Homo sapiens: one gene and its partners. The protein of the gene in region 2 purifies or fractionates together with the protein of the main gene of each other region. This does not show direct contact. Each region holds a gene or a part of one and is shown on either strand. Other genes may lie near its edges. The genes, in order: CLASRP, U2AF1 and RGPD2.

Region 1 (3,645 bases), on a different chromosome or scaffold from region 2:
ACTCTTCTCTCTCCTTCTCTCGGCGTTCCCGCTCCCTGCGAAGGCATGGCATGAGCATCTGGCCGGGAACACTGGACACACTGAACTCAGGGAGGGCAGGTGCTTCCAACACCCTACTCCGAGGAAGACAGTAAACCAAGGGGGCCGGTACTGCCACCAATCCCCGCTTGGAAAGGGAGCCCCAGGTTCAGAGGGACCCCAGCTGGCGGGGCTGACTGGAATCCCAGCCCCTTCCTAGGAAAGCCTGGGGAACAGAGGGAGGCAGGATAGTCCCATCATTTCCTGCCGCACTGGGGCACCTGCACACAGTGAGTGTTGAAATGGTCTCCGTCACAGTGGCCAGGCTTGGCAACCCAATGGCTACGTCTACTGGGTGCCTCCTCCGTGCCTGGCCTTGATCTTGTCAAATCCTCCCAACAGCCTGTGAGGTGGGACAGTGACTGTATCTCCATTTAGGAGATAAGCAAACTGAGGCTGGGACAGGAGAAAGACCCATGGCGGTGGGTGAGTGGGGAAGGGGTATCAGGAACAGCTTGCCAGGCCAAAAAAACAGCAAAGGTGACTGGCACTTGGAGGCTGGAAGAGCTGGGAGGAGGTCGCGGTGGCGGGAGGCAGGTCGAAATGGTGGGAGGAAATTCAGGGAGAGGAGCAAGAGAGGCAGCTGGGCACAGCCCCGAGGGCCAGGCAGGGATCTCTGCCTTTCATCCACCCACAGGGAGCTGGGCAGGGCTTGAGCCAGCAGCCCATGGTGGGAAGGCCAGGCAGGCCAGGAGGTGTGGCCATGGGACAGGGAGGGGCAAGGTCTTACTTCATGCGGATCTTGCGGGCCATGGCTCGAAGCTCGTCTTCCCGCTCCTGCAGCAGACAGGGCTATGAGGACGTGGCCAGGCCAGCACCCACCCGTCACCCCAGCCCTCCCTTTCCCACTTCACCTGCCGCTCATGCTCCTGCTGGATCATCTTTTCTTGTGCCGCCTTCTTATCCGCCTTGACTGTAGAGAGAAAGAACAGGGTGGCTGAGGGGTTCCCTTAAGAGCCCCACTCTCTTTTTTCTTTTTTTTTTTTTTTGAGACAGAGTCTCGCTCTGTCGCCCAGGCTGGAGTGCAGTGGCGTGATCTTGGCTCACTGCAGGCTCCGCCCCCCGGGTTCGCGCCATCTCCTGCCTCAGCCTCCTGAGTAGCTGGGACTACAGGCGCCCACCAACATGCCTGGCTAATTTTTTGTAGTTTTAGAGAGACGGGGTTTCACCGTGTTAATGGTCTCGATCTCCTGACCTCGTGATCCGCCCACCTCGGCCTCCCAAAGTGCTGGGATTACAGGTGTGAGCCACCGTGCCCGCTAAGAGCCCCACTCTCTAAAATGAGGAAGCTGAGCTCAGACAGGTCAACCTGACTGCAGAGGCCCCAGCATAGCGGCAGCGGAGCTGATGCAAACCCATTCCTCCCCAGAGCACCTCCGTGCCTGCGTGGCCTCTCTAGGGAAGGGCCAGGCCTCCCAAAGTGGTGCTGAGTCTCCTTGCTCCCACTGCCAAGGGAAAGAAGAGCTGTGAAACCCTGGAGGGACAGGGCAGAACATACACTGCCTGTTCAGCGCCTTCTGCATCCTCAGTTTCAGCTTCTCCTGAGGCGTCAGCTTGGGCTGGGGAGGGGGGAGAAGAGGCGGGAGAGGGGGTGGGTGTCCCAGAGCTCCCACAACCCACCTCAGCCAAAAGCCTGGGGCTTTGTGCGGGGGGGGGGTGGGGGGGGGAGAACGACGTGGGGAGGAGGGGCAGGCTGTGGACAGCCCTGAGGCTCCCAGAGGTTCAGTGACAGGTGGAGCCCCAGTGTACAGTGAGGAGGGGAGAGGGACATGGTTCTCACAGGGGCAGACCCTTCCCCTCCCCTCCCTGTCCCTGGGGCTGGATCTCCCAGCCCACCCGGGCCCCCCTGCAGGCCCACCGGGCCCAGCTCTTGGGCACTGCTGCTGACGGGAATTAGACGGGCGAGTTCCAAATTCTTACTGACTTTGGCAGCTCCTGTCTCTTTACCAGCGGCAGGTTCGGTCCTGGGTGGGGGCAGGGCCAGAGGACATGGTTGGGAGGGGGAAAGGGCAGCTGCCACCTCTGACCCCAGCCTCAGCACTGCCCTCAGACCAGGTAGCCAAGGCATGGGCCTCAGATGCCCCAGGGTGCAACCATGTCCCTCTCAGACCCCACAGAACCTGTAAGACAGGGACCTGTCCCCCTCTGACCCTCACCCAGGACAAGGTTCTAATTGTGCAGATCCTCCAGGATTTGGTGTGTCCTCCTCAGACCCCCCAGGCCAGGGCTGTGTCCCCCTGAAATCCACCCTCCCAGGCCAGGGCCATACACCACCCCCCAGACCTCCCAGGGTAGGGCTAAGTTCCCCTCAAAAAGAAAACAGTGATGTTCACCCTCCCCACCCGAGATTGGCAGCCCTCTTCCTCCAGACCCGCCCCGCTCACTTTTTCAGCTTCTCGCCCACAGCAGGGGACGCGGCCGGCCTGGTCAGCTTCTCTCTTGCGGGTGATGGCGAGGGGCTCTGGCTGCGGCTGCGGCTGCGGCTGCGGCTCTGGCTGGGGCTGGGGCTATGGCTGCGGCTGCGAGTCAGGCTGCGACTGCGGGACGGGCTGAGGGACCAGCTGCTGCGGCTGCGGCTACTGCTGTGGTGCCTGAGGCCCCGGCCGCCCCGCCTGTAGCGGTCCCCTGAGTGGGAGCGGCTCCTGGGGATGCAGCAGGGCGGGAGGAGGACTGTGAGGCTCCAGGGACCCCAACCGCACCCCACCCTGGGTCCGGATCCACAGTCCTCCTTCCTGCAAGGCCCAGGGTGACAGGCTCGACTCTCCTCTCCTGCTACTCTCCCTCCAAAATGTCCCAGAGCGGCATTCCGGCCTCCCTCCGGCTACAGAGATGGCGCTCTAGATACACTCAGCCTAAGGGCAGTCCTGCCATCATGAGCCCTGCCTGGCCCACGTCACCTCTCCCTCACTAGACACCCGCTTGCTAACTTCCCGGGAGGTGAGCTCTGGGAGGGATGGCTGGCTCCCCCTTTATGAGCCGTGTCCAGCTCAGGCACAACAGTGTTCCACGGTGACCTCATCTACACCCTCACCCACCACCTCATCCTGCTTGTGTCCAGGGTCTCGACAATAGTGGGGACCACCCCTTGTCCTCCACCAGTCTCAGCACAGACCCACAAGTTCCAGTCTGGGGATGCGGAACCCCATCCTCTCCCTGCTCAGGACACTGGTGGGACTCTCCACCCACTGCCCACTCTCAGGCTGGCATGCAAGATGTGCCCAGGTCCCACCTGTCCCCCAAGCCTTTCTCCTGTCATTGCTCTGGGTAAGCTACAAGGAATATATGACCTGGAAGCCAATTCTGGGCCACACGCTGACTCTGCTTGGGCTCTTTTTTTTTTTTTTTTTTTTTTTTTTGAGACAGTCTCTCTCTGTCGCCCAGGCTGGAGTGCAGTGGTGCAATAGCTGGGCTCACTGCAACCTCTGCCTCCTGGGTTCAAGCAATTCTCCTGCCTCAGCCTCCTGAATAGCTGGGATTACAGATGTGCACAACCACACCCGGCTAATTTTTGAATTGCGTTTTTATAAAATAAAAATTTGTTGTCATTATTAAGAAAACAAGGGCCAG
Region 2 (4,296 bases):
ACTCTAACCCGCCTCCTCCTCATTCAAATCCCCTCCACTTTCCTAACTGCACAGCTGTTCTGTTTGTTTCTTAAATGGAGTATTAAATTAGTCTAAAACTAAATGTAACTTAGGCAGTATCTGTTCTCCAGTTCTCCACGACCAAGTTCTCTCTTGAAAACACCGGTGTGGTGAGGGTTAAGATCCCAACTCTGCTACCAGCTGCTTGGGCTTGGGCAAGTCACCCTAGCTCTCAGATGTCATCTGTAAATGATGACAATGCCAATGTGGCACTGTTCTGAGAGTCAGACAGAACGTATGTGTGCTTCACATATGGTGCTCATGAAGTGCTATCATTATCTAAGGAAAACAGAAAACGAAGTTCAGAGTCTCTCTAAACGCATGACACCAGACCAACAGGGAGTTTCAAAAAATAGGTCTGAAGTAAATCAATTCTCCTGGTCTCAATACACTGAAAACAAACTATTAGGGGACTGACCGAACCCACCTTAGGAACCACCTTACGTCACCTTCTGTCTCTACTGCAAAACCCTCCCTTAATACTGTTCAAATACGCTGACAATCCAGATCCATATCCAATGGAACCAGCAATCATGCCTGTGTGCCAGCAATGTCAGGGAGGGAAGCCGATCTCTGATGAATTAGGACATCTTACCAGACAGACTTTGTTCAAAATTCAATTTTTTTTTAACCAAGTGCCATTATGTTTTAAACAGTCAATCCAGAGTTAAGATTGAAGGGCCTCAACCTCAGTGAAATCTAATGGACCATGAAGACTGACTAGCCACTGATTTATTATCAGGTAGCAATAAAGATGGGAAAGTCCAAATTTATCAGGAGAGGAAAGTGATTATATATATTTGCAAACTTACAGGTCTTGAGATTATTTAACTTGATTAGACAATAGCATATCTTTAGGAAGTCATCTAAAAATAAAGAAAGCTTATTTAAAAACTACCTCAGAATGGGCAAGCCCTGGGCCTCAACAATTAATATCCAATTATTCCACACAATTAAACTACAGACAAGCTATTAGGATATCCCTGAATCTAGAAAACATCTATAACTTCAAACATATAATAAGCTAAACATTTTTTAATTGGTAGAGATCTATATTTTATTCTTAGCTTAAATAATAATTAAAGTTAATATGAACCATCAGCTTCATTTTTCAGGAGTTGATCCTGTTCCCTGGAAGCTAAAACCCCACGTCTCCCTGAAAAGAAAACACAAGTAACCTAGATTAAATAATCAACTTTTCTGAATTAAAACCATGACCTTTATAGTATAGCCCAATAGATTGAAATGTGGTTGCTTATAGCAGAAATATAGGGAGATAGACTTTTACAAGACAGAAGTCATGCCACATGCAAATATGAAAAGGAGAAATTAATGATGCCCCGATCCTACATGTGTTAGTTCTTCACCCTAAACTCAGAAGAGTCTCTTGTTCCGATAGAGCTGGTCTATTCATTCGCCAAGATCATACCGTGAGTTCCTTAAGGATAATATCCAAATTTTACCCATGTTTAAGTCTCCAGAAACTGACCTATAGTTGACCCCCACTAAATGTTTCTGGAGTGACTATAACTGGTAGATTTTGGCTTAAAATTTTGCTAGAAATATAGCCTCCTCATCCAAACAACACAGGAGATTCTACCATGTGTGAAGAGGACATTTTACAAGATAGACTCCATCCTGGAAAAGAGAAACATTTTAAATAGCGTTTGAAAAAAGTGGCATTAAAAACATCTATGACAAACTTAGGGGTTTATCATTGAAAACATAAAGTCATGTTAACTTTGTATGGCACTGAAGAATGCCAAGATAACTAAAGAGTAGATTAAGCCAGATGCTGAGTCTTTAGGTTTTCAAAGTAAGAATTATCCTTCAAACGTCTGAAAACATTCCATTTAGTCTAAACTACAGCCAACTCACTGGAAATTAGTACGTGCCAAGGTGGCAATTAAAGCTGAAATTAAATGTTTTGCTTTTAACCTAACGATTGATTAGGGAAGGCATGCAACCTTAAGGAAAAAATCAAAACATCTTTTTCCTTATATCAGAATTGTGTCTTCAAGAACAGTCACCGACTTACAAATTTTCAACTTAGATGATGGGTTTATCGGGGTATTAAAGGCATTTTCGATTCATGATGGGTTTATCGGAACGCAATCCCATGGTAAATCCAGGAGCACCTGTATGTTAAGAGCGGATCACGTCTCTTGTGGTTAGATAGTTAATCCAGTAGTCTCCACCATACTTTTTCTCGTCATATCTCCTTACTGCCGGCCCAGCGGTCGCTTAAACAGGCAAGAGGCTGGCTAAGTGGATAAAACACCAACGCTTAGGACCCTAAGTTAGATAAGCGACTGAATACTGGCGAGGCTGGTACCAGAGCTTGCTCGACAGGACATTCACAGCCGAAAGTTGGAACAAACGTGTCCACGTCCAAAAGGCCCGGATGCTCCAGGCAACTTTCAGCGCGGCTCGAGGCGGCTTCCGGGAGTCGGCGACTCGGAGGCCCGGACGTCGGGCGATCAGCCAGTCCGGACCCCAAGGCCGGAGAAAGCTCGGCCGCGGCGCCCCGAAAAGAGACCCCATTCATTCTGCCCGCTCCAGTTTTCCGCCGCGCGGCCCACGAGGCGGCGGCTCCGGAGGGCGCGCAAGGGGCCGGAAGGGCCACCGCTCCTTCCCGCCGCGCGCCCCTCCCCCGCCACCGCCGCGCCGGCCCGCCTGGGCCTCCCCGGTCGCCCTCCCACCGCCTCAACCACCCTGCGCCCCGATCGCGCCCAACCCCCGGCGGGGGGCTCCCACTCACTTGTCTTTCTCGGTGCCGAAGATGGAGGCCAGATACTCCGCCATTTCCCACCCGCCGCCGCCGCTGCCGTCGACACTGCTGCCGACGCCGCCGACCCTGCCGACGCCCTCGGGAGACGTCACCCGGACGCGACGACGCTCTTCCCCGCCCCGACGTGGCAGCGCTACCCAGTCAGGCGAGGTGCTGCCTGCGCGTGGGCGGGACGCATGCGCGTAGGGAGCACGTAGTGCGCGTGGGAGGCTCCGCCTTTTCGGTCCTGGGAACCCGCGCCCCCTGCCGGTGCCCTCCCCGCCCGGCCCTAGCTCTCTCGCCTTCTCGCCCGCCCGGCGCTGGCCCTGCTGGATCCTGCGCGCCGGGGACTGGGGGCTGGCAGTGCAGACCGAACCCGGGGCCGAGGGGCTTCTCCACAGAGCCGCCTGGGGCTCGGTGGGGGGCGCTCAGCTCGACCCCAGCTAAGGGAGCACTAGGAAGTGCGGGCGTCCCCTTCCCTGCACCCTTGCGGGGCGGGAACCGTCGACCTAGAAGAAAAAAAAAGCTGAGGCAAACTTGATATAAGTAGAGAGGTTATTTGGGCCAAGTTTGAAGATTGCAACCCGGGAGCATAGCTTCAAGTTGCCCTGAACATAGGATTTGCAACAGTGACAAGTGGGTTTATAAAGCTTAAGAGGGGGGCAGTTCTTAAATAGCTCACCAAGAATTTACATGAAAATAACAAGCTATTAATTGGCTGTACGTTGTTCTTTATATCATAATTCCAGGAAAGGAAGTTCATGGGTGAAGGCAGCGGGTCCGGAGCAATAGTGCCTTTAAACAATTGCCAGGCATGGGTGGGGACCGCTGAAGCCGCATAGACCTGTCTCTCCGGGCCGGATTAACCTCGCACGCCTCACATAGCTCGGACGCTCTGTGTTGTTTTTCTCTTCTCACACCCCTCTCCGCTTTACCCTCCCTCAGCGCTTGCCAGGTGCGACCTCCCCGGGGCCCTGCACTCTTGCAGTTGCCTGGCCAAGGCCACCCACAGGTGGAGCTGGAAGGCCAGTGACCTGCCTCTGGGATACCCTTTCAGTCTCCTCATGTCACAAGGCTGGAACCATTCCGTTGGAAGGGTTCTATTCCTCTCCTGCGTTTTAACCCCATCAAGCAGCCATTTTCATCTGGTTTCCCACATTCATCAACTCACCTGCGATTTACCTAATTTCCAACGCAACTATCAACTCTGATTAGGTAGAAGTCAGAGAGACAGGGCCTATTTTACTTACCTCCTCCACAAGATGAGCCCCAGACTGTGGGGCAGGACCATGGGATCCTCTTAGCTCGGCTAGAGCTGAATGCTGAGCTCTAGTGTTTGGGCGGATTTGCGTGTTAGAATTGCATTTCTCTTGGCAACAGAGCATCTTCCTACCTGGGAAAGATGAGCAAACTGGAAACCTGTATTAGAAACAGTAGGGCCTCAGAGGTTTAAACCAAAAAGTATC
Region 3 (3,645 bases), on a different chromosome or scaffold from region 2:
GGATCAAGAAAATTCACCTTCATTTATGTTTCAGGGTTCTTCTAATACAGAATTTAAGTCAACCAAAGAAGGATTTTCCATCGCTGTGTCTGCTGATGGATTTAAATTTGGCATTTCGGAACCAGGAAATCAAGAAAAGAAAAGTGAAAAGCCTCTTGAAAATGATACTGGCTTCCAGGCTCAGGATATTAGTGGCCAGAAGAATGGCCGTGGTGTGATTTTTGGCCAAACAAGTAGCACTTTTACATTTGCAGATGTTGCAAAATCAACTTCAGGAGAAGGATTTCAGTTTGGCAAAAAAGACCCCAATTTCAAGGGATTTTCAGGTGCTGGAGAAAAATTATTCTCATCACAATGCGGTAAAATGGCCAATAAAGCAAACACTTCCGGTGACTTTGAGAAAGATGATGATGCCTGTAAGACTGAGGACAGCGATGACATCCATTTTGAACCAGTAGTTCAAATGCCTGAAAAAGTAGAACTTGTAACAGGAGAAGAAGGTGAAAAAGTTCTGTATTCACAGGGGGTAAAACTATTTAGATTTGATGCTGAGATAAGTCAGTGGAAAGAAAGGGGCTTGGGGAACTTAAAAATTCTCAAAAATGAGGTCAATGGCAAACCAAGAATGCTGATGCGAAGAGACCAAGTACTAAAAGTGTGTGCTAATCATTGGATAACAACTACAATGAACCTGAAGCCCCTCTCTGGATCAGATAGAGCATGGATGTGGTTAGCCAGTGATTTCTCTGATGGTGATGCCAAACTAGAGCGGTTGGCAGCACAATTTAAAACACCAGAGCTGGCTGAAGAATTCAAGCAGAAATTTGAGGAATGCCAGCGGCTTCTGTTAGACATACCACTTCAAACTCCCCATAAACTTGTAGATACTGGCAGAGCTGCCAAGCTAATACAGAGAGCTGAAGAAATGAAGAGTGGACTGAAAGATTTCAAAACGTTTTTGACAAATGATCAAACAAAAGTCACTGAGGAAGAAAATAAGGGTTCAGGTACAGGTGCAGCCGGTGCCTCAGACACAACAATAAAACCCAATCCTGAAAACACTGGGCCCACATTAGAATGGGATAACTATGATTTAAGGGAAGATGCTTTGGATGATAATGTTAGTAGTAGCTCAGTACATGATTCTCCGTTGGCAAGTAGCCCTGTGAGAAAAAATATTTTCCGCTTTGATGAGTCAACAACAGGATTTAACTTCAGTTTTAAATCTGCTTTGAGTCTATCTAAGTCTCCTGCCAAGTTGAATCAGAGTGGGACTTCAGTTGGCACTGATGAAGAATCTGATGTTACTCAAGAAGAAGAGAGAGATGGACAGTACTTTGAACCTGTTGTTCCTTTACCTGATCTAGTTGAAGTATCCAGTGGTGAGGAAAATGAACAAGTTGTTTTTAGTCACATGGCAGAACTCTACAGATATGATAAAGATGTTGGTCAATGGAAAGAAAGGGGCATTGGTGATATAAAGATTTTACAGAATTATGATAATAAGCAAGTTCGTATAGTGATGAGAAGGGACCAAGTATTAAAACTTTGTGCCAATCACAGAATAACTCCAGACATGAGTTTGCAAAATATGAAAGGGACAGAAAGAGTATGGGTGTGGACTGCATGTGATTTTGCAGATGGAGAAAGAAAAGTAGAGCATTTAGCTGTTCGTTTTAAACTACAGGATGTTGCAGACTCATTTAAGAAAATTTTTGATGAAGCAAAAACAGCCCAGGAAAAAGATTCTTTGATAACACCTCATGTTTCTCGGTCAAGCACTCCCAGAGAGTCACCATGTGGCAAAATTGCTGTAGCTGTATTAGAAGAAACCACAAGAGAGAGGACAGATGTTATTCAGGGTGATGATGTAGCAGATGCAGCTTCAGAAGTTGAAGTGTCTAGCACATCTGAAACAACAACAAAAGCAGTGGTTTCTCCTCCAAAGTTTGTATTTGGTTCAGAGTCTGTTAAAAGAATTTTTAGTAGTGAAAAATCAAACCCATTTGCATTTGGCAACAGTTCTGCCACTGGGTCTTTGTTTGGATTTAGTTTTAATGCACCTTTGAAAAGTAACGATAGTGAAACTAGTTCAGTAGCCCAGAGTGGATCTGAAAGCAAAGTGGAACCTAAAAAATGTGAACTGTCAAAGAACTCTGATATCGAACAGTCTTCAGATAGCAAAGTCAAAAATCTCTCTGCTTCCTTTCCAATGGAAGAATCTTCAATCAACTACACATTTAAAACACCAGAAAAGGGTAGGTACTTTGTTGTTAAAGTTAAGCACAATTTTTCTTTCTTTTAATGTTTAGCTTGATGCAGACTCTTTGTGGGATACTAATGTTGGGATATAAACGATGCTTTGTGAACACCCCCAAAATATTTGAGCAATTTTTTTTCTCCCTTAATAAGTTCACGGTGAGGTTTCAAAGAGCAAGAGAACTTAGTTAAAGACATTTCAGTAACTGGAAGATACTTCTATCATGCTAGGGCAGAGCAAAAGAACTTGGTACAGTGTACGGACTCATGCTTGAATCATGCGCATTAACGTGAGTCTTTTTTTAAAGTGTTCATTTTCATTTGTTCTGTTTCTTTTGTCACTCAGAAAACATGATATTGAGGCTGGGCACGGTGGCTCACTCCTAGAATGCCAGCACTTTGGGAGGTTGAGGTGGGCAGATCACTTGAGCTCAGGAGTTCGAGACCAGCCTGGCCAATGTGGTGAAACCCTGTTTCTACTGAAAATACAAAAATGAGCCGGGCGTGGTGGTGCGTGCCTATAATTAGCAGCTACTCAGGAGGTTGAGGCAGGTGGATCGCTTGAGCACAGGAGATGGAGGTAGCAGTGAGCTGAAATCATGCCACTGCACTCCAGCCTGACTGAGTGAGACTTTGTCTCCAAAAAAAAAAAAAAAAACAAAAAAACAAAAAAAACCATGATATTGAGATGTTCTCATTTTATGTGTTGTATGTCAGTCTTGCTCATGTATTAAATGAGCAAAGAATGAAACTACAGGGATAAATGAATATGTAAGACAGTCAGATTGGTGGTATAAATTGAGGGATTCTGGCTTTTTATGTTTTAAAAGCATATTCATTTTGTTTCCTAAAATGTTAAAAAATGAAATATTCTTTATTTTCTAGGATTTAATTTTAGCCTTTTTAAATCTAATCCCATGGCCTTTTGGACTAGCACCCCTTCCTCACAGCCTGAGAGCAAAGGTATAGAACTAGCATTCTCAGTATGAGATAACAGCAGTTTTTAGCAGCTGGTAGCCCTTAGGAAAGTATTAATAACTGTGGCTGTATGAAATGAAGTACTTACCACTACAACATGAATGTTAAAGAATGCCAGTTTAAGCAAAGTACCTTTTGACTGGTGGCATGACACCCTTGTTGGTTTGTTTTTTAAAATGTACTGGGATGCTGATTTGTAATGTACTTCATTGCTCTGCTATTTCAGGTCTGCTCAGTGAAGACCTATGTTTTATCTAATGTTTATCTTTAGCCACTAACGTCTGCCAGTATTCACATGTAGTGGCAACGGCATGTATACAGTATGGAAGAGTGTCCCTGTAGGGCTGTTCTTTTGTGCATGGTTTAGAAAAATGTTGTATTTGAAAATGGACCCCATTTTTAACAGCC

What was found.
Region 1: the proteins of U2AF1 (region 2) and CLASRP purify together in Homo sapiens (affinity purification with mass spectrometry, with the first as the bait; one large-scale study listed by BioGRID). This does not show direct contact.
Region 3: the proteins of U2AF1 (region 2) and RGPD2 purify together in Homo sapiens (affinity purification with mass spectrometry, with the first as the bait; one large-scale study listed by BioGRID). This does not show direct contact.

The regions. Positions count from the first base shown.
Region 1 is NC_000019.10:45,066,412-45,070,056, reverse strand, and holds part of CLASRP (CLK4-associating serine/arginine rich protein), read right to left. Parts: intron 2,721-3,645; coding exon 2,463-2,720; intron 2,043-2,462; coding exon 2,003-2,042; coding exon of another isoform or gene 1,999-2,002; intron 1,638-1,998; coding exon 1,577-1,637; intron 992-1,576; coding exon 933-991; intron 856-932; coding exon 809-855; exon of another isoform or gene 803-808; intron 114-802; coding exon of another isoform or gene 36-113; coding exon 1-35. UniProt on the Homo sapiens protein: Probably functions as an alternative splicing regulator. May regulate the mRNA splicing of genes such as CLK1. May act by regulating members of the CLK kinase family.
Region 2 is NC_000021.9:43,104,630-43,108,925, forward strand, and holds the start of U2AF1 (splicing factor U2AF 35 kDa subunit), read right to left. Parts: upstream 2,942-4,296; 5' UTR 2,866-2,941; coding exon 2,822-2,865; intron 1,217-2,821; exon of another isoform or gene 1,157-1,216; intron 927-1,156; exon of another isoform or gene 873-926; intron 1-872. UniProt on the Homo sapiens protein: Plays a critical role in both constitutive and enhancer-dependent splicing by mediating protein-protein interactions and protein-RNA interactions required for accurate 3'-splice site selection. Recruits U2 snRNP to the branch point.
Region 3 is NC_000002.12:87,780,737-87,784,381, reverse strand, and holds part of RGPD2 (RANBP2-like and GRIP domain-containing protein 2), read left to right. Parts: intron 1-34; coding exon 35-2,258; intron 2,259-3,144; coding exon of another isoform or gene 3,145-3,248; exon of another isoform or gene 3,249-3,645.